Homo sapiens: one gene and its partner. The protein of the gene in region 1 interacts with the protein of each later gene in a biochemical or structural test. Each region holds a gene or a part of one and is shown in the gene's direction. Other genes may lie near its edges.

What was found.
Region 2: the proteins of RAB11FIP2 (region 1) and MYO5B form a complex in vitro, tested with the Homo sapiens proteins (2 studies listed by BioGRID).

The regions. Positions count from the first base shown.
Region 1 is NC_000010.11:118,040,350-118,057,391, reverse strand, and holds the start of RAB11FIP2 (rab11 family-interacting protein 2), read left to right. Parts: upstream 1-10,450; 5' UTR 10,451-11,228; coding exon 11,229-11,581; intron 11,582-16,826; coding exon 16,827-17,042. UniProt on the Homo sapiens protein: A Rab11 effector binding preferentially phosphatidylinositol 3,4,5-trisphosphate (PtdInsP3) and phosphatidic acid (PA) and acting in the regulation of the transport of vesicles from the endosomal recycling compartment (ERC) to the plasma membrane.
Region 2 is NC_000018.10:49,819,183-49,834,096, reverse strand, and holds the end of MYO5B (unconventional myosin-Vb), read left to right. Parts: intron 1-7,473; coding exon 7,474-7,626; 3' UTR 7,627-11,308; downstream 11,309-14,914. UniProt on the Homo sapiens protein: May be involved in vesicular trafficking via its association with the CART complex. The CART complex is necessary for efficient transferrin receptor recycling but not for EGFR degradation.

The DNA.
Region 1 (17,042 bases):
CAGGGGCTGGGAGGGAGAGCCAAAATACAGAGCACTAGGTGACAGTGAGGAGATGGAGACATAGGGAGAAGGAGCGAGGCACGTCAGGAGTGGATTACCTGTATAAGCCGTGAATTCCTGCTGCCAAGACCCCTCAAACTCCCGCTAAACTCCAGGACACCTAGGCCAGGACTGACTCCTAGGCTTAAATATCCATGAAATTCCATACCTCTAATTTGCTCCACATATATCAATATAACAAAACCATTCTAAACAAATTAACTGGTATGAGTCTCAGGTTCCTGCAGCCAAAGAATATATAAATTATATACATACATATAAAATTCAACATATTAACTATATATGCCTATAACATAATTAGTATATATTGTTTGTGATTATGTTATATATTTATGAATTATATTTATAATAGTACACAATGTATACCACAATGTATTTATGTTTCTAAGAAGTTTACAATACTAAACATAGAAATTACATATAGTATGTTAATATTACATATTATGTGTATAAAATTGTAGGTTACTATATATATCACAAAACCAGAGAAAAGTTCCAAGACTCAAATATTTATGCCTGAAGTCCCAGCTTCAAATCCCTTGTTACAGCTAGTAAACTAAGAGTGCTCTTTAGCGATCATGCTTTTTGGAGAAGCAGCTCATTCAAGTTATCTAATAAATTTTATAGTGGATGCACTGAATGAATAGAAAATATATTTTAAATATAATTGAAAAAAATACATTAAATAAGCATAGTAAGCCAGCTTTGGGGTTAAGTCTTTACTACTTATCACCATGAATCATAATGACACTAAACTATAATATACAAAATATTACAATAGAACAGGCCATCAATCCAAACCTTGGAGTTCTCCTAAGATGTCCTGCTTTATAAATGTAAACACTCATTTTACCTAATCCATAAAAAAATAAGCAACAAACTGTGTGAGGTGCTGCTAATTGGCCAAATAAGATATGGACTGTGACAATGTGTAGCCGTAGAGGGGTGACGACAAAAATCTGATTGATGTATGTTCGAGAGAAAAAGAGCAGAAAGAGAAAGTAAATATGAACAAGTTTTTCATTCAATAAGTTTTGCTCTAAAAAGAAACAGAAAGGTAGCTGGAGGAGGTACAGGGGTGTATGTGCAAGTTAAGTTTTTTTTTTAATATGAGAAATACTAGATAATATTTGTATGTTGATGACATTGATCCAGTAGAGAAGAAAACAACTGAGGATACAGGAGGGAGAAAGGATAATGGCAGATGCAAAATCCTTGAGAAGACAAGAAGAGATGAAGTCCATTACCTGAGTCCTCAGATGGGAACAAAGATGGGTGATCTATTGTAACAGGAGAGGAGAGGTAGGGCAAGTAGTGGGGCACCTTCATGAACTATATTTTTATTAGTTCATCTCAAATTTGCATTAATTTTACAAGCTGCTACACCACAAAATCAATGTCTACTGCAGTGAGAATCAACCAAGATCCTGTATCTCTTCCCTGTATGTTGTTGGTAGGTCACCCAACCAAAATGCTCTTAATTTTTAAGACCAAGTTCACTAAGGACATCACTTCAGCTTTATGTTAATGCATTTGGAATATTTAGTCCTAATGTACCACCACAAGCTAATCATATAGGGGACCCAAGACCATCTCATCACGTCATAGAAGGCTCCTCAAACCCTTGGGCTCTGGCCATGACCTCACTTTGCTTACAATGTATGTAGCAGGTACAGTATTTCAGTCCATATACTCAGATGATAGGCAAGAACTGTAACTCTATTTCCCTGTTACTCAACATAATCTCTATTTTGATTCCCCTAGTTCTACTCTTGTCAAAATGTATCCAGAAAATGTCATATCTGCATAAATTCAGGTTTTTAAACTCAGGTAAAATTTCCATCTCCCTATCCTTCTCCCTGAGACCAAAACTAAGTTCTTAACGCTGGACTGAAATTGAGGCCCCAGGGAGAAGCCCAGGAAGGTCTATGGCTGTCAGCATTGACTCCTATTAGCAAGTCATATGAAGTAATAGGTGTAGGTCCTATCATGGCCAGTCCCTGGTTCTTTATCCATGTATATTCTGAATTTTCCCAATCCCGACCTGGAGGACCCTAGTTTATCAGCCCTCTCTCAGTCACTTTCTCACCTTTCAGGGGGAAATGAAATTTTTAGAGGTTCTCAGGTACCTCTCGGATGGAAGGAGGCTCAGGGAGTTGCCTGTAACAAGACCGTCTTGGCCTTGAGTCCCCCTGCTCTGCTATTCTACTGCTACTGTTGCTGCTCCAAGCCAATGTGGTGCATGGGATTAGGGAGCTCTAGGAGTTTGCTTACTTTCAAGGTCCTTCTTGAGAAACAAGATGCAAGTGACAATTACTTTTAGATGCCAAAATTTATCTGGATGGTCTATCATCCATTTGCCCAGCTCCCATGCTCAACAAGTGGGGAGGCGAGTGGAAAGGTCTTGGAGACATTCCACCTGTCCAACTATCTTGATCTTCTTTACAAGCTCCCTATTCTTCACTTCGTCCAGTGAAATCCTTGTATAGTGTAGGTCTTTCATTAATTGCATTCTTCCCCAATTTTTTCTTTACTGCATAAATTTTGGCTTTTGTTATATCTTCCCCTATTGTCTACTTTGAAATGGAAAAGCGGAGAAGTGACTCTGTTGCATGCCTTGGCCTCACTTCTCTGGAGCAGTTAGTCTAGCTCTCCTAGCTACTGCCTGAAACTAGGCGGAAGGTCATAAGGAGGCCAGCAATTACTAGGAATAAGAACAACATAAGTTATTATCAAGATATTATCAACCTTGCAACCACATGAGCTTGTTAAGGCATGTTTTTCCAAGAAGGCACTAGGTTTGCCATTGCACAATACATTTAAATTTAGTCTGTTTTATTAATACAGTATATTGTCCTGTAATAATCAATTTGACTCATCACATAATTTATCTGCATATATTTATCTTCTTAACTATCAAATTTTTATTTATCCTTCACATGTTCCTTAGCTTATAAAGTTGAGTTGGATTTAACATAATTTGAATGATGGTAAATTAGAATTCTCTTGCTTTTAAATGTTCCACTGTTATTTTAAGCAACCTTTGATGCTAGAAGAAAAAAGTGTGCATGCTAATAGGTATACATTTAATAGATACAAGACTAAAACCATAATAAAATTTCATATTTGTAAAATTCTTTACAGTTTACAGAACGATTCTACGTGCATTATTGTGTTTTATTCTCTAGCAAGTGTCTACTGTAGGTTGAGTTAGTGTGTAAGTCCTGATCTCCCGAATGAAAACTCAACATTTTTCCACAAGGAACAGACTATTAGCATTTTGACATTTGGTTATGAAGGCAGAAGAGTTCAGTGATATCCTAGGTCACCCTTTGTCCGTGCATAAAGTTTATTACTATATTTCAATTTCTCTGCAGTTTATGGAGGCCAAACACCACAGTATATGTTGCTGCTCATCGAGTATGTCATGCGGCACAAAATAGATCAATTATCTTTTGCTTGTCTCTGAGCTTTCACTGAAGCGGTGTTAGGACCTGGCATCATGTCAAGGATGCTCTGATAATGCTTAAAGCCAACTGAAGTACAAGAGTTGTCCAAAGGATATGAAGGATCTGTTTCTCAAGTGTCCTGATGTGAACAATGCCTAAAGAGAGTTCTCCCACAACCTCATCTCCTTTGTAACAGGATAGGAAAAAAAGTGGTAATGTGTGTATTGGCTGTTGCTTTATCTCTTTCAAATTAAATGAGATTGAGATGTTAATGAATGCAGTGTAAGGCATGTCATCAGCAAATGTCAGCTATTATTATTATTAAAATTGAGATAACAGAGTTAACATTAGAGTAGCAAATGGAAGTTAGAAAATATTGGTTAGCACCAAGGTGATAATATTGGGAGGCAGGGCCCCTGGCAGAGCCCTCTTGACTGGGATTAGCACTTTTATAAAAGAGACCCCAGAGAGCTGGCTCATTCCTTCTACCCTTGAGGACACAGTGCAAAGACTGTCATCTAGGAGGAAGAGGGCCCTCACTAGACAACCATTCTGCTGGTACTTTGGTCTTTGACTTCCCATCTCCAGACTTGTGAGAAATACATTTCTGTTGGAAGGAAGGAAGGAAGGAAGGAAGGAAAAGGAGGAGAAGGAGAAGGAGAAGAAGGAGGAGAAGGAGAAGAAGGGGAAGGGGAAGGGGAAGGGAAGGGAGGGGAAAGGGGAAAAGGGGAGGGGAAAGGAGGAGAGGGAGAGGAAAGGGAAGGAGAGTATGGATACACTGGTTAGCAGAATGTTTGTTGTAAGATTCACAGGACGTTATATTTTTGTTTTTAAATTTATCATAATTCTCTCTGAAGTGAAAATCTAGAATATTAAAATACTACCTGGTACATGATCTACTACATAAATTTCCAATTTTGCTACGTATAGGTATATAATGTAAGGAGTTATTTTTCTTCAACTCAAGGATCTGATTCATTTTTATAAAGTTGTTAAAATGATACCTAGAAAGTCATTATTGAATTTTAAAAGAAGGTTTGAAATACTATTAAGGGCTTATTCTATGTTACTTTTGTTTAGAAAAAGAGTATCCAATAACATTGAGTTTGGCTTGAAACAAAAATAACTCAGGGTCTCCATTGCTGGGTTACAGGGGCACCTGCCACAGCTCAGGATCCTTAATTATTTGGTGAGGAACAGTCCAGACCAATTGCTGTGTAGCCTTTGCCTTCAGATAGGAGGAAAGTAAGTACTTGGAAAAGAAGGGACACATCATCAAGCCAACAGCAACAAGCATCTTTTGAGCACTTCCTATGTGTCAGGCCCTCTCTGTACTTTTACCTGATTCCCCTATTTAATCTTCCCAACAACCCACTTTGCAGATGAGGAAACCTAAATTTGGAAGGTTTACACAATTTGCCCAAGGTCACACTGTTATTAGTGCCCGGGGACAAAAATCTACCACAGGGTGAATACTCAACAGTGTTCAGTGTCTCCATCCAAGGAACTTTGCAGCAAATCTTGTTTCAGAAAGCGTTACAAGCCCTTGATTCCTGAGGTGCCTAATTCAGAAGACTTCACTTTTACAAAGCTAGCTTGCTCAATTTTTTTTTCCAATGTCCAAGTGTAGACAGAAAGGAAAATGAAGACCATCAAAATTATAAAGGTGATCTGGGCAAAACCTACCTTAGAAATTCATGCAACACACTTCTTACTCGGAATAGGGTTCTTTGAAAAACTTCCTTAATTTTCCTGTGTTAAAAGAACATAGTTATGGGCACAAATTGCACAATCCATATACCTTCTCATCTTGCATAAACTTGATAAAAAAAACAGTAAAATGCATTTTCTCATTGATTTGAATCTATTGGGAAGCCATTCTGGATAACCCAAGATCCAAGTTTGGAGAGAGAAGAAATGTAAAATTCACTGTTTTCTGGAAGAGGACTTTAAGTTGCTCAAGGTCATATACAACATTAGTTTTTTAAGCCAGAAGATTTCTGTCCACTATACTACATAATTCCTGAAATGAGGTATCTCCTTTAGGTATACATTGCTAAGCAACATCTTATGCTCAGTTTTGGCTGTACAGATCAGCCATGATCATTCCAATAACCAGAAAATGATTATAATACATACTGGCAACAACCTATAGGTGCACTGAAGGTGACCTAACCCAGAATGTGTAAAAGATAAGCATACAGTTCTAAGCCCAAAGTGCTTTTATGATCAGATATCCAGATGGACTAAAACATTGTTCAGGTCAGTTGAAAGTTGCTTTAGGAGAAATGTTTAAAATCTGGCCCTGGAACAAGAAGAGTTGGATCTATCCTTCAAAATGTCATTTTCCCCCAGGCTTTATATCAAACACACAAAATATAACAAATAAAACAAAACACAACAAAAGCCCTTTACTTTTTTTAACATAGATCAAATAAGTAGAAAGGCAGAGAACAGTCGATCTCACATGGGGGAAAAAACCACCACCACAAAATGTTTTTGCCATCCGCCCACCGGTTTAATGCTCTCTAAATGAATGTATTTCCAGAAATATTATCCCAGAAATTTTATGGATTCCAGGCCGTCCTAGAAATATTATAATTTGAATACCCCGTTCTTTGTTTAAAAAATATCCCTGTCTTGGATTTTAATTGAACATAAAAAATTTAGCAGATGTTTACAAAGTACAAATATGATAAGTTTATATAACTCTGCTAATCATTGCCTTCAGGAATAATCAAAACTCTCCAGCCCTTATTAACCCGCACCTAAATCTGTAGAAGCAGCAATGTTCTGGAAGATTTCAGAAAGACTCATGATGATGAGACAATTGAAATTTGAAGACAAATACCAAAGTAGTCACAAAATCTTCTTCCAATAGCAATAATCTCTGCTTCTCAGTAAATATAACAAAAGGAGTTTGAGAATTCTGGATTTGGAAGGAGTCCCTGAGGCACAGACAGAATATGGCTTGCCAGGTCTATAACTCCTTAGTTTGTAGAACCAGGATTAGAATTCAAGTCTAATACTCAGGCCCATGGGTGTTCCATACTCTCATTCACAAACTCCCAATAATTTCATCATCAATTACCAAAACAAATCCCTGCATATGTGCATAGGAGATATATAGATGTTTATGCAGCATTGTTTATGATAATTGAAAAAGTGGAAATAACTTAAATGTCCTTTGGAAGGAGAAAAGATCAAATGGGGCTTATTCATCTCACCCAATGCCATATACCAGTTAAAGTTAATCAATTCGTGTTCTATGCATTAATATGCATTTTGTTGTAGGAATAAAAATTATACAATGGAATACTATGATACTATGAAAAGGAAATTGAAAGATGTTCCCATACAAAACCTTCTTATATGCAAATGTGTATTTTGCTCCGTAAATTCTTACCAATCTCAGCATATTTTCACAGTTCAAAAAAGCTACAAATAATACAGATAGAAGTTATAAACTTATTACTACAATTAAAAAGTTCAAGGCTGCTCAAAACCACTTGCACATACATGCAATTTCTTCCAAATCTTGAGCTGTTGGTGTCAATTGCCTCATGCAGAGCCTATTAATAAAACTTATATTCACTTGCTTTCTGTGATCATTAATTACCTTCATTTGGGAGACAGAGCTGTCAGGAAATCTTAAAAAATAATTTTTTTCTCCTGAATTAGAGAATTCTTTATTAATATGTTACATAAAAAGGAAATCTGCTTTAGTATATTGACCAAATTCAGTTAGATAATTATAATGCAATTTGCTTCTTTGCGTTGTGGATATACTATGTAGAATCTTTAAATGTTAGAGGATCCTTTGGTGGCTGCTATAAAAGTCTCATTTTACAAGACAGCCCAAAGAAGAAAAATGACTTCCCTAAAGAGATGTAGCTAGTAATAGGCAGCCCTGGGATTAAGACCCAGGCTGCTGACTAGAGCTCTTTACACTACATACCATGTTACTTCTTGGGCATCACAAAATGTATCCACACACTGCCCAATCCCAGAAGAGAAATTGATCAGTCCAGCGATGAAAACAAAACAAAACAATCCCCAAAAATCCCCAAATGCCAGTTCATTGCCATAATAATTTCAAGTCAATTTGCCAAATACTCTTTCACTTTTCAACCGATTACAAGGAGATTGATCTATCTATCTATCTATCTATCTATCTATCTATCTATCTATCTATCATCTATCTATGTATCTCCAATATAACTCTGGGGCTTTGTCATATGTACATATATATGAATTTTACATACCTTTCAGTTGTGTATATATTTGAGGTGTGGTGTGTGTCTGAAGTCTAAAGACTATAATGATACCTTGGGGAAGTTTCTTGTTGTCCTTATGTTTCTGAATCTCCATCTGGAAAATAATTAATATCCATTACATAATGTACATGGGAGCATTAACACGCTTGACCCAGTGGGCTATTTAAACATGAGAGCATTATAATTGTTCTGCAACAGATTTGCAAGATGTGATTTTAGAGATGCCTTTGTCCAAAGGGAAAATCTCCCCCAATGTCTGGAATAGGTCTCCTTATGGGACTTATTCTTTATGGGACTGAAAGGGGCAACATGTAGTAAATATTTTCATCTGTGAAATCCTCTACTCATGGGGAATAAATATTGACTATTTTAACTTTCTGGTCAAAGCATTCTTATTCATTGCTGTAGGCATTGTTAACAGTTTAAAATTAGAATGTTCAGCATTTTCCTTCTAAAATATATTATTTTCCCAAGACTTTGATTTTGGAATTGTACCATACATTTCCGGATGTATCATTAGTCATAGGATAATTTTTTAAAAAGTGACTCTCTTCAATTCTGGTATGTTGTCCTTACACACGCAATCCTTTCCTTTTTAAATTGTTGTCCATGTATATCTTAGAATTAGTCAAAAGAATTTTTAAAACTGTAAAACAATAAACATTTTGGGAGAAGCACTTTGATCCCAGATCTTATGTAATTGTCATTATTTTTCACTATAAGCCAACCATATCTTTGACTCCACTGTCATATTTTTATTCTCTTAATATAATCAAAAAAGGAAAACATTCTATAGGAAGTCATTTCCTTATTATAATGCAATCCCAGATTCTATTTAGCTCATTTGGTTTGTTTGTTTATTTGCTTTCCCCGGGGGCAAAAATATGTTATTTTCTTATTCTGGCTTAAAAAATTTTAAGTCATAATTTCTGATTTCACCAGTAAAACTAAACAATTTTGGCTCTAGCCAGCTGTTGGGAAAACTCAAAAGAAATTTAGGTGCTACAGAAAGAGAGGTTAGTAATTCCAATTGTTCAGCTCTTGCCTTTAGAGTATTCTCTGAGTTGTGTTGGAGTATGTTATTGAGTTGCTGTGAACTACTGCTGCCAACTTCTACCCTAGAGATGGCTATATTTCAGAGATGAGTGAAATTATATTTGTAAACAAGTTTATAATCATTAATAAAGCTTACCAATTTAAGCTCTTCAGAAATACACATCCACTATTATAATTTTCTATTGTTTAATTACAACCTTTAATAGAGACATGAAGACTTTTAAAATGTATAAGAACTCTAAACTTAATTAAATTTGATTTCATGATGTTTATTTGGTTTTTGTAAGTTTCAGGTGTCAAATTATTTCTCCTTAGAGATCCTGGTGAAATTCCACCATTGACTGTTCCAACGTACTGTTTAAAAATCCCTAAGAATATTTTTCTTTAAAGTTGACAACTGTGCACTCTGGGATCCAGATGCTATATTCGCAGTACGATGATTTTGTTCTGTTTTCCACACATGGCCTTTTCATACACTGTCTCCCAGGGATGAAAAATTCTGCCTTGAATGAGAAGTTTTAAACCTTGCTTGAAAATAATAAACACGATACTTTACATGTTTATGGCCATTTAAGTTAAAAAAACGTGCATTTACATGTATCATATTGTTTTACTCTCAAAATTAGTCTTGTAAAGGGAAAAAAGGCATTAAGTAATTCAGTAAATTGTCTGCTGCATGCTAGCCACTATGAAGGGACTGCATGATAGACAAGGCAGTCCCAAAACTTAGAATTTCCTTGGGAAGGTAAGACACGAACAGAATTAACAGCAATGGGGTGGTACATAAGCGTCTCTTCCAATTGAGAAATAGAGGGGCAAAAGGAGATTTATGTGCCGCATTGTGCTAGGAAAGGCACATGTATTATCCCCTGAAACTCGAAACCCGTGTTTGGGGCATGGTCTCCACATGATTTGCACAGTCCACCACAGTGTGAGTCCCCACGGGGGTCCTTTTGACGTCGAGCCCATAGAGTCGTGATGGAGTCTTAGACATGAGGTAGAACTGGCTTTTTTACTCGTGAAAACACTGAGGCTCATGGAGGTGAAATGACTCGGCCAAGGTCACACACACTGATAGCGGCAGAGGCGCGGCCGGAACCAGGTCTTCTGATGCCAGCCCAGTGCCTCCCTACATCTCTACTCCCTGTGGAAACTATTTGCTTCCCTATCGCCCTTCGTCTGGGTGGGGGATGTCATTTTCAGTCAATTTACGGACTTTTCAAAAAGAGAAGGGTGGATAGGAGATTGGAGAAAAGTTTCCTTTCGGTCAGTGAAGAGGCCTGATTCGTTCCAACACCATTTATGGACCTGCTCCTGCCAGGCACTGGGCATCCAGGACACAGCGAACACAGATCCCCTGCCCTCAAAGACGCCCTAGTTAGGGGCGTCTCCGGGTCTTTGATGACCTCCTCTCACGAGCGGTCCCCAGCCCTCCCCAGGGCTCACCTGCCGGCCTCTGCAGGTACCCACGTCCCTAGGACCCGCCACTGGGCCAGGCCCAAGCAGCATCAAGCCCCGGGTCCCCGCCATTGCGCCCGCGTCGCGCGCCTCCAGTCGCCACGGCAACCAGGGAGGTGCTGACCCCTGACCTCGAGGCCCCGCCCCTTCACGTTCCCGAGACCAACATGGAGAAGGCCAACCCGGAAGTGCCGCCGCAGCCGCCCGCCCGGTGTTAGGAGCCGCCGGCCGGGCCAGGCCGAACCAAGCGCCCGCAGCCCTGCAGCCCGCTGCCCGCCCCACGTCCCGCCGGCGCCGGGGCGGCCGCGTTCCCCGCCCTCCCCCACTCCACCCCTGGCTACCCGCTCCCGCCCGAGAGGAGGAGCTGAGGCGAGGGGGAGGAGGAGGAGGGAGAGGTTTGCGAGAGGGAGCGAGGCCGCGTTAGCCGCCGGCGGTTCGTATTACCGGGGTCGGGAGGAGGAGCCGGGCCGAGCCTGCGGACGAACGCCGGGCGGGCGGGAGGCGCGGAGGCAGCGGAGGCTGCTCGGCCGCAAGGAGGCAGGCGGGAGGCCAGGGGTGCAGAATTGGGGCGGGGGCTCCCTTCACCCCCGCAGCCCTCCGCCCGGGTCCGTGTGGCCAGGCCTCACGTGCCCCGCAGGCCTGGGGAAGGTGGAGACAGGGGCGGGGGTCCGCGCAGAGGCCTGCACGGCGCGGCCAGGTGATGGTGGGCCTCTGTGTTTCTCCAGACGAAAGGGGACCCCCGGAGCGGCCGTGCCCCTGGGCTGCCCCCGCGAGGCGTTTTGACATCAGCCATAGGGAAGTCGGGGAGCCCTGAGCCTGCCTGTTTCCGTTAAGTGTCCTTAGGATGCAGTGATTAAGGAATTAGGCTCTCCCTCCGGGAGGGGCACTGCCTGTGCTAGGGAACTCGGGGGCAGAGAAACAGGACAGGATGATGCTGTCCGAGCAAGCCCAAAAGTGGTTTCCAACCCACGTGCAGGTCACAGTGCTCCAAGCCAAAGATCTGAAGCCAAAAGGCAAAAGTGGTACCAATGACACATACACTATAATTCAGCTGGGCAAGGAAAAGTACTCCACCTCTGTAGCTGAGAAAACCCTTGAGCCAGTTTGGAAGGAGGAGGCCTCTTTCGAGCTACCTGGATTGCTAATTCAGGGAAGTCCAGAGAAATACATTCTTTTCCTTATAGTTATGCACAGGTCCCTGGTGGGTCTGGATAAATTTTTAGGGCAGGTGGCAATCAATCTCAATGACATCTTTGAGGACAAACAAAGAAGGAAAACAGAGTAAGTTATGTAATTTATTTTGAATTTGGGGGAGTTTATATCTTATTTATGGTTTTTCTGTTCTTGGAAATTATCCGTATACTTCGGGCGTTGGTTTTTGGATTGAAATATGATCCAGTTTTAAGCACCATATTTGCATGAATCTGAAGTAAAAGTAGCACTCGTGATGAAATATTTTTTAAATGGAATCATTAATGATCCCTTATTCTTTCTGTTAAACATCTGTCAAATAATTGAATATTTTGTGGTGGATTTTAAGTAAGTTAACATTGTTTCAGTATGAGGACTGGATCACAGTATTGACCAACTAGAACTTCATATAAATTGTTATGGATTTTAAACCTTACAATTATCAATGAAATGGAAGATGAGAAATTAAATCTGGCAATGTAATGTTGATGTGTCGCACTTTGTAGCTGTCAAAAGATAAATCACCAGATTTAGAACTCAGTATTTCGTTTCAGCGTTATAAACACAGCTTTTATTTTAGCTCAGCCATTTTTCAGGGTCAGTGTGCCTTGATGGGAGTCTATACCTGTTAGAAAAAAAAAAAGTTTTAAAAGTATGTACAGACATCCTCAACTTCGAATGCACTTACATTTTCCTTTGAATTTGCAATTACATCAGAGTTATTGTATTCAGAATTGATTTTCCAAAGCTATTGTGTTTAGACCATATTAAATGCTGTAGGATGGAGAGAATGATAAATTTTTGTGATGAAATGATTTGATAACATCTTCAGTGGTCTTTTCAGTATGACTTTTGAGCTTGAGTTAGATACATTTTAATTTAAAAAATCATAATATAAATTAACACTAGGATATTGTGTCTTAAATTGAAAAAAAATATGTTTTTAGAGTTAAGTATACTCACCCCTTCCATAAACTTAAAAGGACATTATATTAATGAAATTAGTGAGAGAAAAATACTGGTTGAACTTCTAAGAGGACTTTCCATTTCCAAAATAGTGTTGGTGTTTTGTTCAGTTATAATTGAATTTATTTACTCTTTAAAAAACTTTCTTACAATGATATTTTTCTTGAAGTTTATGTTAATTCTTTACATTTTAAAACGACTCTCTCTTGTTCTTTTCTGTACATTTCTACTCTCAGGCTTCTCTTGATTGGAGTTTTTTTGTTTCATTTTAAATCAGGTCTTAACCTAAGATTTAATATATGTGGAGTAAAAGTGTAGAGAGATCAGAAATACTAGGAATGCAGGAGGAAAAATGGTACCATTTAATTGAGATGAAAATATTTTAGAAGGAGAGAAAAAGTTAAATGTAAAGTTTAATATATATCAGTGATTTGAATAATAAAATTATTTGATACCTAAAGAGTGGCATTCAGTTTCCTCCGAGGGATTCTTTATCAAATTGAAAGTGAAAAATGGATAATTACCAAATAATCTGTTTCAAATTGCCAATTTTGGGTGACACTTAGTAAATATTTAACGTGTTTTGAATGTAAACTATTAAGTATATTGCACCTTCAAATTCCTCACTTCATTTATAGTACTTTAATATTCATGGATCATGTATTTCAGGCCTTCTCTGAAACATAAATTTTCCTAGTGAAAGTAGGACCAAATGTGAACCCAAGGAGTCTGAGGATGAAATAACCTTTTACAATTTCTTCTTGTTTTACTCCTAGTCCTGGGCAACATCACAGTTACAATACATTTGGTGTGAGCAATACTCTAATATTATGGTCTCTCCTTATAGAAATTCTCTACTGGCTATTATATAAAATTGATTAGAACTTTAGGGGTAAAATGCTTTTAAATGTTATCAACAGGGTTTGTGATGTTATTGCATTCAAAGTGATTTTCATATATTGCTAAACCCTTAACATTTTATTTGTGGATAAATGGGGACCATGTATTTGATGAGATATCTTTATTGGTAATATTTCTAGTTTTTTAATATATTTAATAGCTTCCTTTTCTAGCACAGCTGTACCTGTGGCCCAGTAAGAGACAGACTTGAGCCGCCGGTATATTTCAAGGAAGATATTTAATATTCTGCACATTGCTAAACTTTTTCAGCATATTCCCAAGTGCTTTTTAGAAAACTGTTTCGAGTGATGAGGACTACCAGCTAACTTAGATGTCCTATGAAACTGCTGGGTGTGACACTTTTTACATTTTGACACTGAAGACATATATTTACAGCTTGTCTTCCAGTTGTGTCATGATAGATAAAGAAGTATGACAACTAAAATTATTACTTTACTTATTTTCTTACCTTGAAAATATATGTCTTTTTTCTCTCTTAAGGAATGGGGAAAAAGGGTCTGAGCCAGAACCCTTTGAGTGGGCCTGGGAAGAGAACTTCTGTATCTCCTCCTTTAGAGGATGTCTGGGTTGGTTCTGGCATGAGATTTAAAGAAATAATACAATGTTTAGTAATAGAATGTTAAAATCATTGATGCTGTTGTGTAATATCCATTGATTTTTTACAATAGAAGTAGGTGATGTTGACTTTTTTTTTTAATGCTCATGAAAAGTAATAACAACCAGAGTCTGTAGAGTTAGATGTGACTCAGACATATGCAGATTTTAGGACGTGTGTGTGTCTCAGCGGTGCACCTGTGTCCTGGCCTCTGGCACCCTTACTGCCAATTTTGTCCCATTTCTGACCACACAGCACCAATTGCTTGGGAATAGTTCCCATATGTGTGCTGGTTTTTGAACATGGACCTGTGCCCACTAAAAATTGAACAGAGGCCATGTACAGTTTAAATCCAGTACTCCAGAGGTGAAAAAAAGTCAGCTAATCCAGTAAGCTCCAAATGCTGTGTCTTCGTTTTATCTTTCTGAAGACTGGAAAAACAAATGCTATCTCTGAAATGATTCTTGAAGATCTCATTAAGACTTCCCTATTATGTCATTTTCAAAACAAAGCAACTAAAGTTATTTGTCATTGCTACATTTTCAATGAGTATATTTGTAAAAGTTCTTTGCAGTTTTTTTTGGGGGGTGGGGAATGGACATTATAGTGTATTTACAGTTTGTAGTCAAATACTGATTTGCTTTATTCAGGTTTACATAGGTCTTTACAGTTTCCTACTAAAAAAACAAGACAATGTAAACACATACACACACACACACAGTTGTAGCTTACTTGTAAGAATATAGTTCTAGAAATAAAAATTGAATAAACATTTAATGCAAGGCAGACTGCCTTCCAGGAGCTTATACTCTAGCAGTAGAAAATTTGCATTGTCTTTCTCTTCAGCTCTCATGTCTCCTTATTAAATACAGTGTCCTGCAGTATGTGCCAGCCATGTGGTTAACCTTATTAACATATGTGGTTCATCAAATAAGAAAGAGCTTCTATTTTCCTGCAGATGTTATTCATCAACTTTAGATTTTTTTCTTTATTGACTTTAATCTGACATTGGGAAGTTACATATCATTCCTTGTGCCTCAATTTCCTCATCTATGAAATAAAGATGTTAAAGTAGATGATTTATTGGTCTTATCTCTAAAAGTCTGTGAATTTCCACTACCCCCACCCCCTTCCATTTTGGGGGTAATTAATTTTTTTTTACTCATATTTGCTTTGATTTGTTACATACGTGCTCGTTTTTGTTTGCAAATTTTTGGTACATTTTTTGCAAAGTATATTCACCTACATTCTATAAAGCCTGAGGTACTACAGAGTATTTCTGAGCTACTGTTCGTCAGATGTGTTTCTCTCCCTATTGAAAATAGCTCTGTTTTCCAAAACTTTGAGTTAACTGGGTATATAATCTGCTTCATTTCCAGGCTTTTTGAGTGCTCAATTGTATGTTATTTAAGGTTGTCTATTTCACAGAAATCGCTGTCATTTCTTATTTCTAGCCCCTGTTTCTTCAGATTTTACCATTTGCCTTATATAAGGGATTTTCTCAGTTTAAGGTCTCAGGCTAATAGTATTTTAAAATATTGATATTCTAAGAAATGGCTAGTTTTGATGCAACTATATCTGAATTGATTGAATAGCTCCAATTTAGTTAATCAAGAAAATATTTTTCTTCCATGTTACGTGCAAAGATGTAGCTGGTATTTATATCATGTGCCAGTATTTCAACTTGATATACAGTAAATGTAATCTTCTCTTGGCATATCCAGTTGGTAACAATGAGAGAAAGAACTAATGTAAAATTAGATCAGAGTTCCTTTGTAGCTAAGAAAATTTGTTACACTCGATTAGAGCTATATTTAAATAATAACCTGTGTGCAGGAATGGATATTATGCCTCATTGCTAAGTTATGTGAAAACATTGTAGAAACTCTTTCAGGCTTGATTTTGTAGTTTTTTTTGGCTGTTTTCCCATAGAATGACCACTTGTGACATGGCCAACTGGAGAATTTCTCATGGATAAAAATACTATAAAACCAAAATATTGCTTCTTGTATATCATTTAAATACAGATAGTGCCATACATTGAAGGGACTAAAACGTAAGATTTGGCTTCATTTTCAAAATAATTTTTATTTGGTATTGTCACAGTAGCAATAGTAAAATGAAGCAAATAGATTCAAACAAGAAGCATTTTAGGTTTTTTTTTTTCCTTTTGAAAACTTCACAAGATTTATTTTTTGTCACTTCTTGCATTTTACTTATTTTTTGCATATTTTATTCAGGAGTAGGCTTTGATTCATTTTATGTCAATCTAAATGACATCATATGCTGTTTTAATGATTAGCAAGCTATATGCAATGATCTCCAATGTTAACAAAATTCTTTTGCTACTTTTACGTAAGTAATATTTTGGGATGGGGCCAGGTATTTATTATTGTATTAAAATGTCATGAGATTCATTTTATAATGCTCAAAAATAATTTGTATTGGTGAATTCTTTCAAAATCTCTGCCTCAATGTCTTTTAATGTTAAAAAAAAATGTCCTTAGGCCGTGAGCAACACTTAATCCCATATGGAAAACTTCTAGCATTGATAAGAATTTTTGATGATGAGTGATTTTCAAATTACAAAAGAAAAGATTATCTGAAAACATTTTCAAACTTGCCAAAGACCTATTCATTCCTTCAGTATATGTTACATCACAGAGACAATGATCAGTTTTTTAAACTAAATAATAAGTAAAGCCCGAAATACTGTGGCTGACAGATTCTTATTCAGAGCTTAGGTTGCCTTGATGTATAGTTACTTTACCTAAAAGGCTATTTGTATGTAACAGAACTCAGTATCCTCTCTCTATTATGTGTTACAGCCAATTTTTTTTTCTTCTCTTTAAGGTGGTTTAGATTAGAATCCAAACAAGGAAAACGAATCAAAAACAGGGGTGAGATAAAGGTCAATATTCAGTTTATGAGGAACAATATGACCGCAAGTATGTTTGACTTATCAATGAAGGACAAAACCAGATCTCCTTTTGCAAAGTTAAAAGATAAGATGAAGGGTAGAAAAAATGATGGAACATTTTCTGATACGTCTTCTGCAATCATTCCAAG
Region 2 (14,914 bases), on another chromosome or scaffold:
TTTGAAAAGAGCCATGGCAAAAAAAAAGCCTAAATGAACTTTAGCCCAGCATCTAAGTAGGGAACAGAGGCCAACAGAGGGAACGTCTGGGAAGTGGTGCCTAGTCAGACTAAAGGTTGTTCTCCTAAGGGCAATGACAGAAACACAGTCGATTGTTAAAGACACAGGCCGCAGAATGGGGCAGGCAGAGTGAGTCTCTCTACTCACCAACATGTATACAACAATGGGGTTGTGGGTGGCGCTGACAGAAAGGATCCAGTTAGGATGCTCATAGTCAGCTGCTGAATGGGAAGAGTTTGATGACAGAAGCCACTGAGATATCTGAACCTGGACCCATTATATGGATTTTTATGGAGGGCTGATAATTTATACAAAAGTGCAAGTTTAGAAAGTCTTGTTTAGTTTCGAATATCTGAGACACACATTAGAGGGAGAACTATAACTGCTCATAAATTGGCAACCCCACTGTTTATGAGAATTCAGGTTAAAAAATATATGCCACATCATACTGCAGGTTTAATGGATCAAGGACAAAGGGAAAATATAATGGAGGTTAAGCCCAACTATTCTCTCAAAATATGTACAGTCAGATTCTGAATCTTCCTCAGTAATCAATTTCAGTGTCTCGCAGTTCTAGCAAAATATTTTTTTCATGAGCTATAGCTTTATGTTGTTTCTACCTATACAATGCTCAGAAGAAATGGTGAACAATCAGTCCTGCCCTCCTACATTTGAACTCACATGTGTGATAAAGACAAGTTACTTGTTAAAGCAAACCATTGCTTGGGCGCTCTGGGCTTTTTATAGCTTTGTACTGACCTTTAAAAATGTAAATTTGAAGTTGTTAAACTCACCAAAGCATTCACAGGAGGATTTCTGTGAAATGACCACCTTATATACTTTAATTGATTAAAAGTATACATGCCTTTTGCTGTTGAATTGTGATAATATAGGTAATATTTCACTTTCTTTTCCCATTTTTATACTCTCTAAAATTTCTTCAAACCCTTTAGGTAGTGAAGTCTACTGTCACATCTAACTAATGTGGAGAAATACAAGGGCCCTTAAGTGCTACAAAGATGACTTTTTTTCCCAGAGCCTCCTGCCATTTCACATTTTACATACATATGCCTTGTGATAGGTTCATGATAATAAACGCAGCAAACCTCAGAGTGGGCTGTGTGTGAGCTGTCAACAATCCCAGAGAATCATTCTGCCAGGCCACACCAGAGCCATCATTGAGTACCTTGAATTAGTGAGGCTAGTTGCTTATTCCTCCCTAAATACCTTTCTCTCCTTTAAACTTCTCTCCCATTATTTCAAACCACTTTTTCAAATGATTAAAATTACTTTAAAATTTTGGCCCATCTTTCAAGATGCCAAACACACGGGTACTGGAAATTTAAGTCATGCTTTCTATTCATAATTCAGGTAATGGATGAAAACGTGGGCAATTCTAGGTTCCCCTGCCACTATAGAGCCATCTTACAGTGCCATGCTCCAGCTGACTTCATTCTGTAAACCTATTTCCCAGCGATTTTCAAATGCTGCTATGTATTTACTGACTATGGCCTGTTTCGAGGTTTAAGAAAAATAAATTGTGTTTTCACAAAATCAGGATATATTGATTTTCCTTTTTGGCAATACTCCCACAGTTAACCCTATTGACTTTTGTAAAAGTACAGCTTCTACCAGCAGTTCATGGTTCAGAGGTCAATGGTTAATGCATGGGCAGGAGGAACAAAGGAGCATATTATAAAACTGATAACAGCAAATACAGCACTTACTATGTGCCAGTGATGGTACTCTGTGTTCTTTACACCTGTTAACTCTTCAAATCCTCACAACCTTATCAGAAGGGTACTCTTCTCCATCCCATGGTTTTGGGGTATGTGTGTTCCATTTTAACCATTTTTAAGTGTATAGTTCCGTGGCATTAAGTATATTCACAATATTACATAACCATCACCACTATTTCCAAAATTCTTTCATCATCCTAAACAGAAACACTACCCATTTGGGCAAATAATATTCTCCCTTCCCTTCAACCCTGGGTAGGCTTCTATATGTAAATTCTAGATATCACATATAAGTTGGCTCATACGATATTCTTTCGGGTCTGGCTTATTTCACTTAGGTTCTCAAAGGTCATCCATGTTGTAGCATGCATAAAAACTTCATTTTTTTAGTGACTAATATTCCCTTTATATATCCCATTCTGTCTATTCATTGGTTGATGGAAACTGCACTGTTTCTACCTTTTGGCTATTGGGAATCATGCCGCTATGAACATTGTTGCACAAGGAGCTGAGATCAATTTTTCAGTTCTTTGGGGCATATATTTAGAGGCAGAATTACTGGGTCATATGGTAACTCTATATTTAACTTTTTGAGGAATCTGAAACTTTTCCACAGCAGCTATACCATTTTACATTCCCACCAGCAATGCATGAGAGTTCCAGTTTCCCCACATCCTCACCAACACTTGTGATTTTCCAGCTTTTTAAAATTATAGCCATCTTAATGGGTGTGAAGTGGCATCTCATTGTGGTTTGGATTTGTATCTCTCTGATGACTAGCATCTTTTCGTGTGCCTATTGGCCATGTATATATCTTCTCTGGAGAAATATCTATTCCAGTATTTAATTCATTTTTAAATTAGATTATTGTCTTTTTGATATTGAGTTGTAGGAGTTATTTGTATAATCTGGATATTAAATCCTTATCAGATATGATTTGCAAGTATTTTCTCCCATTCTGTGGGTTGTCTTTTCACTTTCTTGATAGTGTCCTTTGATGCAGGAGTTTTAAATTTTGAGGATGTCCAATCTATGTATATTTTTTTGTTTCCTATGCTCTTGATGTCATTTTTAAGAACCATAAATACTTTCCCCTATGTTTTCTAAGAGCTTTGCAGATTTAGCTCCCTTTAAGTTTTTGATCCATTCAGAGTTAATTTTTGTATATGGTATAAGGTGAATGTCCCACTTCATTCTTCTGTATGTGGATATCCAGTTGTCTCAGCACCATTTGTCAAAGACACTGCCCTTTCCCTCATTGAATGGACTTGGCACCCTTGTCAAAAATCAATTGACCAAAAATATGAGGGTTTTTTTTTTTTCTGGGCCCTTATATTCTATTGGTCTGTATGTCTGTCCGTATACCAGTACCATACTGTTTTGATTCCCATAGCTTTGTAAAAAGTTTTCAAATGGGAAGTGTGAGTCCTCCAATTTTGTTTTCCTTTTTTTTTTTTTTTTTTTTTTTGAGACAGAGTCTCACTCTATCACCCATGGAGCGCAGTAGTGCAATCTTGGCTCACTGCAACCTCCGCCTCCCAGGTTCAAGCAATTCTCCTGCCTCAGGGAATATAGGCATGCACCACCATGCCTGGCTAATTTTTGCGTTTTTAGTAGGGAAGGGGCTTCACCATGTTTGCCAGGTTGGTCTCAAACTCCCAACCTCAGGTGATCTGCCCACCTCAGCTTCCCAAAGTGCTGGGATTGCAGGCATGAGCCATTGCACCTGGCCAATTTTGTTATTTTTCAGGATTGCTTTGGCTAGTCAAGATCCCTTGAAGTTTGATATGAATTTTAGGATTTTTTTAGATTTCTGCAAAAAACGTCATTGGGATTTTGATAGGGATTGCACTGAATCTGTAGATTGCTTATGTAGTATTGTCATCTTAAGTCTTCTAGTACATGAACATGGGGTGTCTTTCCATTTGTTTAGGTCTTGACTTTTTCAGAAGTGTTGCACCTTCTTGGCTAGATTTATTCCTAAGTATTTTATTCTTTTTGATGTTATTGTAAATGGAATTGTTTTTCTTTCTGATTATTCATTACTAGTGAATAGAAATACAACTGATTTTTATGTGTTTTTTTTTATTATGTACTTCGCTGAATTCATTAGCTCTAGCAATATTTGTGTGTGTGTGTGTGTGTGTGTGTGGATTCTTTCAGTTTTTCTACATGTAAGATATGTTGTCTGCAAGAGGATCATTTTAAATTGGCTGCCTCTTATCTCTTTTCTTGTATAATTGCCCTGGCTAGAACTATACTGAATAGAAGTGGTAAGAACAGGCATCCTTATCTTATTCTTGATCTTAGAGGAAAAACTTTCTGAGTGTGATATTTGTGATGTTAAATGTGGGGTTTTTACATATGGTCTTCATCATGGAGGGATTTATCTTTTTATCATTAAAAAAGTTGGATTTTGGCAAATGCTTTTCTCCATCGATTGAGATGATGTGGGTTTTTTCCTCTTCATTCTGTTAATGTGGTATATTACATTGATTGATTTTTATGTTGAACTAACCTTGCTTTCTGAAGGTAAATCTTGCTTGGTCATGGTGTATAATCCTTTTAACCTTTTACTGAATTCAGTTTGCTAGTATTTTCTTGAGGGCTTTTACATCTGTATTTATAAGGGATGAATATAGTTTTGTTTTCTTACAGGGTCTTTATCTGGCTTTGATATTAGGGTTATACTGGCCTCATAGAATGAGTTAAAGTGTGCCTTCCTCTTTGATTTTTAGGAAGAGTTTGAGAACTGGTGTTAATTCTTCTTTAAATGTTTGATAGTCTTCACCAGTGAAGCCCATCTTGGGCTTTCCTTTGTTGGGAAATATTTAATTACTAATTCAATATGCTTACTTGTTATAGGTCTATTCAAATTTTCTATTTCTTCTTAAATCAGTTTTGGTAGTTTGTGTGTTCCTGGGATTTTGTCCATTTCATCTAGGTTATCCAATTTGTTGGTGTTAAATTTTTCATAGTATTCTCTTATAATCCTTTTTATTTCTGTAAAATTGGCAGTAATGTCCTCACTTTCATTTCTGATTTGCTAATTTCTCATTTTAGTCTTCCCACACACCTGTAATCCCAGCTACTTGGGGGGCTGAGGCAGGAGAATCACTTGAACCTGGGAGGCGGAGATTGTGAGCAGAGATCACACCACTGCACTCCAGCCTGGGTGACAGAGCAAGACCCCATCTTAAAAAAAAAAAAAAAATTGTCAATTTTTTGAACCAACTTTGATTTCATTTGTTTTGGGTATTGATCTGTTCTCTATTTTTTCCATCTAATTTATGTTATTTCATTTCTTCTAGGTTTAGGTTTAGTTTGCTCTTTTTCTGATTCCTTAAGGTATACAGTTAGGTTATTGATTTGAGATTTTTTTTTTTAATGTAGACATTTACAGCTACAAACTTTTTAGCACTATGTTTATCCCATCCCATAAGCTTTGGTTTATTATATTTTTATTGCCTAATTCCCCCTGTGATTTCTTTAGCCCATTGGCTATTTGAGAACTTATTATTTTCCATATATTTGTGGATTTTGCAGCTTTCATTTATTGATTTATAGTTTCATTCCATCCTAATCAGAAAAAATATTTCATATGGCTTTAATATTTTTAAATTTATTCAGACTTGTTTGAATATTGGAGACTGTTCCATATGCATTGAGAAGAATGTGTATGCTGCTAAGTGGGGTGTTCCATATGTGTTTGTTAGGACTAATTGGTTTATAGTGTTGTTCATGGCCTCTATTTTCTTATTGATCTTCTATCTGGTTCTATCCATGATTAAAAATGGGGTATTGAAATGTCCAACCATTACTGTAGAACTATCCTCCCTTAAAGTCTGTCAATTCTCCCTTCAAATATTTTGGGGTTCTGTTGCTAGATGCAGATGTTTATTATATCTTCTTGATGAGTTGAACCTTTTATTAAAATATAATGTCCTTCTTTGTCTCTGGAAATGACTTAATTTCTCCTTCATTCTTGAAGGGTAGTTTTGCCAGATTTAGAATTCTTAGCAGACAAGATTTTTTCCTTTCAGGATTTGAGCTGTGTCATCCCACTGCCTCCTAGCCTCCATGGTTTCTGATGAAAAACAGCTGTTAATCTTATTTGAGGATACCTTATACAGTCAGCCCTCCATATCCACAGGTTCCATATCTGCAGATTCAGCCAACCACAGATTCAAAATTCAGTATTCACAGGATGCAGAACCTGTAGTTATGGAGGGACAACTTTTTCTATCTATAGGTTCTACAGGGCCGACAGCAGTACTTGCATATCCATGGATCTGGGTATCTGTGGGAATTCCTGGAACCAATCCCCCATGGATACTGAGGGATGACTGTATGTGACAAGTCACTTCTTTCTCACTGCCTTCAAGACTCCCTCTTTGTCTTAGGGTTTTGACAATTTAGTATAATGTGTTTCACTGTGAATCTCTTTGCCTTTATCCTGCTTGGAGTTCATTGAACTTTTTGGATGATTACATACATGTCTTTCATCAGATTTGGGAAGTTTCTGGCATTATTTCTTCAAATATTTTGTTGCCCCCTTCTTGCTCTTTTCCTTCTGGTACTCCTGTAATGTGTATGTTGGTATACTTGATGGTGTCCAATAGGTCTGTTAGGCTCTGTTCATTTTTACCTCATTATTTTTATTTTCTTCTCAGACTGGATCATTTCAATTGCTTTATCTTCAAATTCACTGATTTTCTTCTGCCTGCTCAAGTCTGCGGTTAAACTTCTCTAGTGAATTTTTCATTTCAGTTTTTGTACTTTTCCTAAAATTTCTGGCTTCAAATAGGAAGCAGGGAGGGGCTCTGTGCCTTTAAATTTTCCAGTTGATGCCACTAGTGGAAGCCATTGCATCCCAAGGAATGTCTAAACCAAGACAGGCATCTGCTGGGACCCACCAGATCAAAGGGCACAACCCCAAATTTTTGGAGGACAAGGTCCCACTGCCTACCCTGGCCAGCTAGCTACTCCAGGAATGTGAGCTGCTATCCCCATAGCTTCAGGGGAGCTGAAGAGAGGGGGATAGTAGCTGGGTCACACACACAGTTCCCTTAGCAAAGATCAGCAGCCTCTCCCTTTACCAATCAGTCTCCCGATTGTTATAAATGTCCAATCAAGTTCCAGAGTTATGAGATAGTTGACAATCACTGTTTCTACTTCAAGGTAGCTTCAGTGGAGGGACCAATCCCTAGGGCTTCCTACTCTGCCATTTTATGTGATGTACTCTTCTCCCATTCTACAGGTAAAGAAACTGAGGCATAAAAAATTCAGGAATTTGCCCAGGGTGGTGCCAGGATTAGAGCTCAGCTGTCTACCTAAAAAAAAAAACCCATGCCCTTGGCCACTTCACTATAGTGCCTCTCCATATGGTTTGCACCTGAGATGTATTTTATATTCTCCCTTAGACAATTTTTTAAAGAATGCTAGAATTGGGAGAGTGCTTACAGCCCTCTGATCTCCAAGAAGCCTAAGTCAGGGCTTCTCTCCCCACTAAATACCTCAAGGGTGAGGAGATCACATTCTCCTAGTCCTGAAGTTCTACCTAATTGTCGTAGAAATCTTTCCATGATATATGCCAACTCACTTTTGTGAATTCACTTAAACTGGCTATTTTTAGGGGTACTCAAACTTTACATGGTCTTATTCTTCCCCATAGGCACAACTACAAGAGCGGAATGACCCTCAGCAACTGCTATTAGATGCCAAGCACATGTTTCCTGTTTTGTTTCCATTTAATCCATCTTCTCTAACCATGGACTCAATCCACATCCCAGCGTGTCTCAATCTGGAATTCCTCAATGAAGTCTGAAGATGCATGTTTCCAGCATTAGTTTGATTCCCAATGTGAGCAAGAAGGAAGTATATACAGTAAAGTAAATTCAAGGATCTGTTAAATCTGGTAAAAGTAGATCAAATCAGAGATTGACAGCCTGTGGAGGGTGCTGAACTATACAGAATTAGACACAACTATGTCATTATTTTTTGTACCTACTGCTCAGAATAAAAACACTTGAAATATGGAAGATTTTAAGTTTGATTTCAGTCCAACACATATACATAATTTATAGACACCAAGCAGTCCCCATAGACATATAAAAGGTGTCAATTCTATAAAACGAAGCTGCCTAGTTTTGATCTTTGCATAGAACTAGAGAATGTCCAAATTAAAATACCAAATATATATAAGTCACATAAATTGCCTTCAAAGGGCTTTAACAAATAATGGTACTAATAACCATGATAATGGCATATACTGACATTTCCCAAAGTTTGCAAACCATAGGTGTGGTTGAGTTTGTGGTGAGATGTTTTAAGAACAAAAATATGGGGATGAGACTTCTGAGAAATATTCCCAAAATATTTTTTAATGGCTGATTATACACAGACAGTGGTGTAACTGACCTCCAGACCAGACATTTTGAGTACTGGTTTCTGAAGCAAAATTAGAAGTGCCAGTCCTCAGTGTGCTCAAACGCTTTTGTGTTATCTTGATTTAATGGAAGAGATTATTAAAATGCTGCTATCCCAAACTCCAAGTGAGAAAGATGGAAAAATATTTTGTTTCTGATGCTAGTCCATACACTTTCCAAGTCCCACAAAACTTTCACAAAAATGTATATAAGCTAAATATTAGAAACGGATAACAAACTTGTTTTATTTATAGATGTAAAAACCAAACAAGTCAATATGAAAGCTTTTAATCTCTTAATACCATTAAGCTTCCAGTAAGAGCATCACATAATGCTCTACTGTTCCAGAAACCAAATAGTAAAACAAACTAAAGTTCGCACATCAGATCATCTGAAAAACCTTCAAAAATAATCAGTTCAGGGATATTATACAAAAGTTTGGGTTTTTTTTTTTTAAGAGAATAAAATGGCTTAGGTCAACTTTCCCTTTTCAGGTTATTTTCAACGTTTTTCAAATTTAGCACACAAAAAATTGTAAATATCTCTCCCACAAAATAAGGATTTTAAAAAAGTAATTCAGTAATATAACAGGCTTAGATGTTTGCTGCTCTTAGAATTTTTTTTAACTTGTTTTTGGTTTCTTCAAAAGCAAGCATTCAATTGGAAACCCATATTCTTTCCACACTTTTTTTTACTGTCTTTTCTGTATTTCTTGATAGCAGTATGCTGTTCCCATAAGAAAAAAATGGTATTTGCAAATCATGGAAGAACAGCCTCTGTATTACATTGAGAAAATAAGATTTATCCATGAATTGGAAGTAGAACAGCCTGCCTTCACCCTCTTTTACTCAACCACCCAACTTAAAAGGCTCTTGGAAACACAGCACACTCCACGCTACCTTCTGCACTGTGCCCTTAGAGCACAGCTTCCTCAGTTGTTCTCTGCATCTCCTGGGGCTTAGGCCAGTCTTAGCCTGGGTTAAGGCTGCTGACATTGTGTTCCAATCAGTTGTCATGGGCATTATCCCCTCTACATCCACATTAAACATGCCGGCTTCTCTTGGGCATCGGCAGAGCTGTGCCTTTTTCTTTCAGTTACAGTTACATAATCACTGACGTCCATGACACTTACCCATGGATCCATGTGCTGACTTCATTTAGAAGGCCAATCTAAAACAACTGGGTTTGTGGCTACCTCTTTAAAGTTGTTTGTGAAGGATAATTTGTTTTTTAATGCACTTTAGTTTGAAAGTGAGTCTCTTATGTAAGGACCATCCTTAAAAGACCAAAAATGCCTTGTTAGAGTGTTAAGGAGTTTTGACATGCAGTGGTTCCACAAACACAGTGGCTTACTATCCTTATACACTGTCTTATACCATCATTCTCTCCATCTCTCTTGGTCACTACTCTCTGCTGTCACTGGTTAATCACTAGGTGCCAAGAGCTTACTGAATAAAAGCTTGGCAATTAGAATAAATGGGGAGGGAAGGACCTTATGAATAGTCCATTTAGCCTAAGAAATGGCAGATTTAGTTCTTCTCTTCCAAAAGATAAAGGTATATCCTGGAATTGTACTTAAAACTTACAGATGACTAACAAATATATACTTTATATGTAGTTAATATTTAGATCTGTCTTATTTAATACTTGGAGGCTAGAAGAAGCATCTTTAGGGGAACTATATAATCTTTTGTTAGCATTTTCTCTGCATTTTAAAAAATCATTTCAATTCAAACATTTATCAGTGTCATGAAATCAGTAATGACTCTTTAACAATTCAGGTTTGAACTCTGCATTAGATGTCTCTTTAATTTTTTAATATTTAAAATTTAGTTGACATTTTTTTCACCAGGTGCCTTTAGCGGTTACTAAGATAACTGACATCAGTTGTTTCTCTGAAATAAGTGTTGCTGTGGGAATAATTTTAATGTTCAAGGTGATATCATGGGGGAGTTTTGTCTTTTAAAACATTAGAAGCATTTTAAATATTAAGAATCAAATATTTATAGATCAAAACTTGTGTTTTAAGTATTATACGGGACCTGTTTACTTATAGTAAATGTGAATGTACACATGAGTTGTTGCTGAAGCTGACAAGCATATTACATACATGCATTTTCCCTGTGCCCTCATAGTTGCAGTTAGAGTTCCAGTACCTGTAGGCTCACCTGGGAGGCAGATTAGACCCAAAGGTAGATGTTTTTCCCCTTTCCATGAAGCATGTCAGTGGGAGTTGCTTCCTTTGATTTCCCTAGTACTAAATTTTAAGGCTTTTGTAAAAACAAAACAAAACTAGGAGCTTGGAACAGTTAAAAATCAACACTGCTACCATCAATTCATCAAATATTTACTTAGAGCTTTCATACATTAAGATTCCAGTAACCAATAAATTAGAATTCATTTCTTCTGCATAAAGTAAATTTTCATACACTTGACCTACTAAGACAGCAAGGGTGTCCTAAATTGAGGCATTTGTATAATGCCTGCATAACTAAATGGTCACTAAAATGGGACAGCATGGGGCAAGACCTTGTAGTTCTTCACAGAATATTTGTGGTCAGTTTCTCCAATTAATTTGCTGCATGAGCCAAATAACCATAATTCACTTTTTATACCCACTGGTGCCATAATTAGAGAATTAGAGGGTGTAGACAGAGGTTAATGCCAATGAGAAACACAGGACAGGGTTTTTTTTATTATAAAGGTCATTAGATACAAAAGATTGTTTTTCAAAAAATTTCTAATTCTAACAAAGGGGATCAATCAGAAATGAAACTAAGCTACTTTCTAAAGTGACACTGTATCAGAATAATCCAGATTTGAATATAACATTTTGCCACCAACTGACATTTAGATGAAGGACTGCCTCTCTGAAAGAGTTCAGATCATATTCAGGGGTGAATCCAACACCATGGAAGAAAGACTACTGATGAAAATATTTTCCCACTTTGCACAAATCTGTAAACTACACCTTTGTTTATAGAAAAATGCTTGTAATAGTCACTGTAATATTTAGCTGTGGATAAAAATTTGTGGAAATAAATACTTTTGAATAAAGAGGTGTGCCAAATCTAAATGAAATTTAAAACTCTGCAGCTACAGGTTGACAAAGTTTCTTTGTAATGCTCTCTTGAGAAGCTTCATTATGGGGCCTATATTCTAATACGTGTCAAGATCATTTAAACCAGAGGTCAGCATCTTACAGTCCAAAAGTTGGGGGCAGGGAGAAACTCTCAGATAACAAGGCTTATTGAGCAATTACTTTAAAGCTATGGAATTAAAGGCAGTTTTGGTGTAGGCAAAGACAAGTAGATCAACGAAACAGAATAGGGAGTGCAAGGATAGGCCCAATCCTATGTATAACATAGCATACGGTAGAGATGGCATGAAAAATCAGTGGGGAAATAGTCATAAGATCTGTATGGAGGAATTTGTAAAATATAAGTGAAAAACAATGACAACATTAAAATGGAGAAATAATTAGGTACAAGAATTCGAAGACTCCATACCACTAAAAGTTTGTCAGTTGTCCCCAAGTTGATCTATAGATTAAAAATCAAAATTTCAACTGTTTCTATGTGAAAACTGACAAGCTCATTATAAGATTTATATGGAAGAGCAAAGGCCCATGAATAAGGAAGACCCTCCTTGAGAAAGTGGGAAGCTTTCCTTAGCAGGCATTGAGACTTACAAAATTTCAGTAATTAAGATGTGTGAGGATGACAGACATGGAAATTTTTTTTTTTTTTTTGAAACAGAGTTTCGCTTTTGTTGCCCAGGCTGGAGTGCAATGGCACAATCTCAGCTCACCGCAACCTCCGCCTCCCAGGTTCAAGCAATTCTCCTGCCTCAGCCTCCCTAGTAGCTGGGATTATAGGTATGTGCCACCATGCCCAGCTAATTTTGTATTTTTAGTAGAGACAAGGTTTCTCCATGTCTGTCAGGCTGGTCTCAAACTCCCGACCTCAGGTAATCCACCCGCCTCGGCCTCCCAAAGTGCTGGGATTATAGGCGTGAGCCACCGCGCCCGGCCCTGGATGTGGAAAAATTGACCAGTGGAACAGAATAGCCCAGAAACTGAGCATCTATATGGAAATACTGATACATTTTTTCTTAACTGGGAGTACACATCAAAATCACCTGGAAATCTTTAAAAAAATTTACACCCAAATTTATGGAATAAGACACCTCCAGAGATGGTGCCCTTCCACACCCATTGTTAACCTGACCCACCTAAAAATATACAAGAAGACATCCCCAGGGATGGTGCCCTTAAGCACCCATCATTAGAGACCACTATTGAAATATTTCATGATCCAGAAAAATGGTCACAGTATAATTAGTCCTCAACGTCACTGATAAGTTCTAGGAAACCACGAGTATAAACAAAATGACGTAATGACACCAATTTTAACATAAGCTAGTTGATATAAACAGTTCCTTCGGCATATTTATGGTCATACAAACATCACCAAATTTTTTTTTTTTTGAGATGGAGTCTTGCTCTGTTGCTCAGGCTGGAGGGCAATGGCAAGATCTCAGCTCACTGCAACCTCTGCCTCCTGGGTTTAAGTGATTCTTCCTCCTCAGCCTCCCGAGTAACTGGGATTACAGGCGTCCGCCACCATGCCTGGCTAATTTTTTTGTATTTTTATAGAGATGGGGTTTCACTATGCTGTCCCGGCTGGTCTCAAACTCCTAGCCCCCAGTGATCTGCCTGCCTCGGCCTCCCAAAGTGCTGGGATTAGAGGTATGAGCCACCATGCCCGGCCAAAACATCAACAAACTTCTAAATAAAGACCAAAACACTTCTAGAATTAAACACTGAAATGAAAGCTATATATACATTTGAGAAAGATTAATAAAAACAAATGAGAAAGTTGCCCACTTATTCCATTTAAGAGTCACTGAGGGCCCACCTCTCCTGGCAGCTCAGGGTGCCAGGGAGGCACCAGGCCTGGACAGGAAACCATCCTGTCACTGGGTGTGCTCACAAACCCACACTCAGACTGGGATCACTTAGACACATCCATTCACCTCATGTACACAGCTTTAGGACATGGGAGGAAATGAGAATCCAAAGAAAACAGTCATGGGGATCTCACCAGTGGAACGTATCCATGTCTGTATGAATGAGGCTGCAGCCTCAATTCTTGCCACCTCAGAAGAAAGAATTTGAGGGCCGTACAGCAGAAGGAGAGACCAAGGCAAGTTTTAGAATAGGAGTGGAAAGGCAGGAAAGTACACTTGGAAGAGGGCCAAGTGGGTGACTTGAAAGAGTCAAGAGCGTGGCTTAACCTCTTGACTTGGGGTTTTATATGTTGGCCTACTTCTGCGGTCTTGTGTTACTTCTCTCAACTCCTGAGATCTTGTCAGGAAGTGGCTGATCACCAGTTTCATGTGTTTTCTATCGGGAGACTGCCTTTCTCTGATGCTGGCTGCGACCAATGACTACTTTAGAAAGACAGTTAACAACTGCCTTGACCATCACTGGATGGTCACAAGATGCTCCTGGTGTGTGTGTGGAGGGGGGAGCTCTCTCCTGCCCTGCTCATGCCTGACTAGGTACCCACTGTAACAGGGAGAACCTGCAAACTCCACACACACAGTGGCCCTGGCCAGGAAGCAATTCTTTTTTTCTCACCAACATTATGTCAAAATGACAATGAATGAAACAATGTTATGTAGGGACCTGCTGTATACTATGCAGTGAAAAGTTGACTTTTGAAACCACCTTCCAATCTAAAGATGGATTCACTTTTTGAGTGGCTGACCAAAGAATACCCTCACTTGAGGAAAGCCTTCAGCTCATTCTCAAAGAGGTTTAGTCCTAGCTTCAAAGCCTCAACAGGAAAACCACATTTGAAAAGAAGCAAATTTCATACAAGATACACTTAATAACAGTTCAGAAAGAGAAAAGCAGACTGACTTCCAGGAACTGATTTGAAACTCAGAGCTAGGCCTGGGTCATGCTAGAAGCTGGCCTGGTCCTCTGTGCTGGGCCGTGTTGTTCTTTTGCTATGAACAACCTTATAAAACACCAATATCAGATGTGGCCACTCTGACTACACTAAAGTGATATGAAACAAGACTGTAATTTTGCCCAGGCACAAAAACAAGATCACTGTGTAAACCATGTAACACCAAATATGCCCTGTCCCAGGTAATATGAGGGACTGTAGCTGCTTTCCCAGGTGCAGCTTGAGCCTAGCTCTAATCAGCCCTCCTTCAGGATAAGATGATACTGTGACGGTTAATATTAGTTGTCAACTTGATTGAAGGATGCCTAGATAGCTGGTAAAGTATTGTTTCTGAGTAGGTCTGTGAGGTTGTTGCCAGAGGAAATTAACATTTGAGTCGGTGGCCTGGGAGAGGAAGAGCCACCCTCAGTGTGGGTGGGCACCATGCAATTGGCTGCCAGCGCAGCTAGAACAAAGTGGGTGGAAGAAGGTGGGATAAGCTGGCTTGCTGAGTCTTCTGGCTTTCATCTTTCTCCTGTGCTGGATGCTTCCTTCCATTCCTCCTGCCCTTGGACATCAGACTCCAGGTTCTTCAGCCTTTGGACCCTTGGACTTACACCAATGGCTTGCCAGGAGCTCTCAGGCGCCCTTTGGCCACAGACTGAAGACTACACTGTTGGCTTCCCTACTTTTGAGGCTTTTGGACCCAGACTGAGCCATTCCTGGC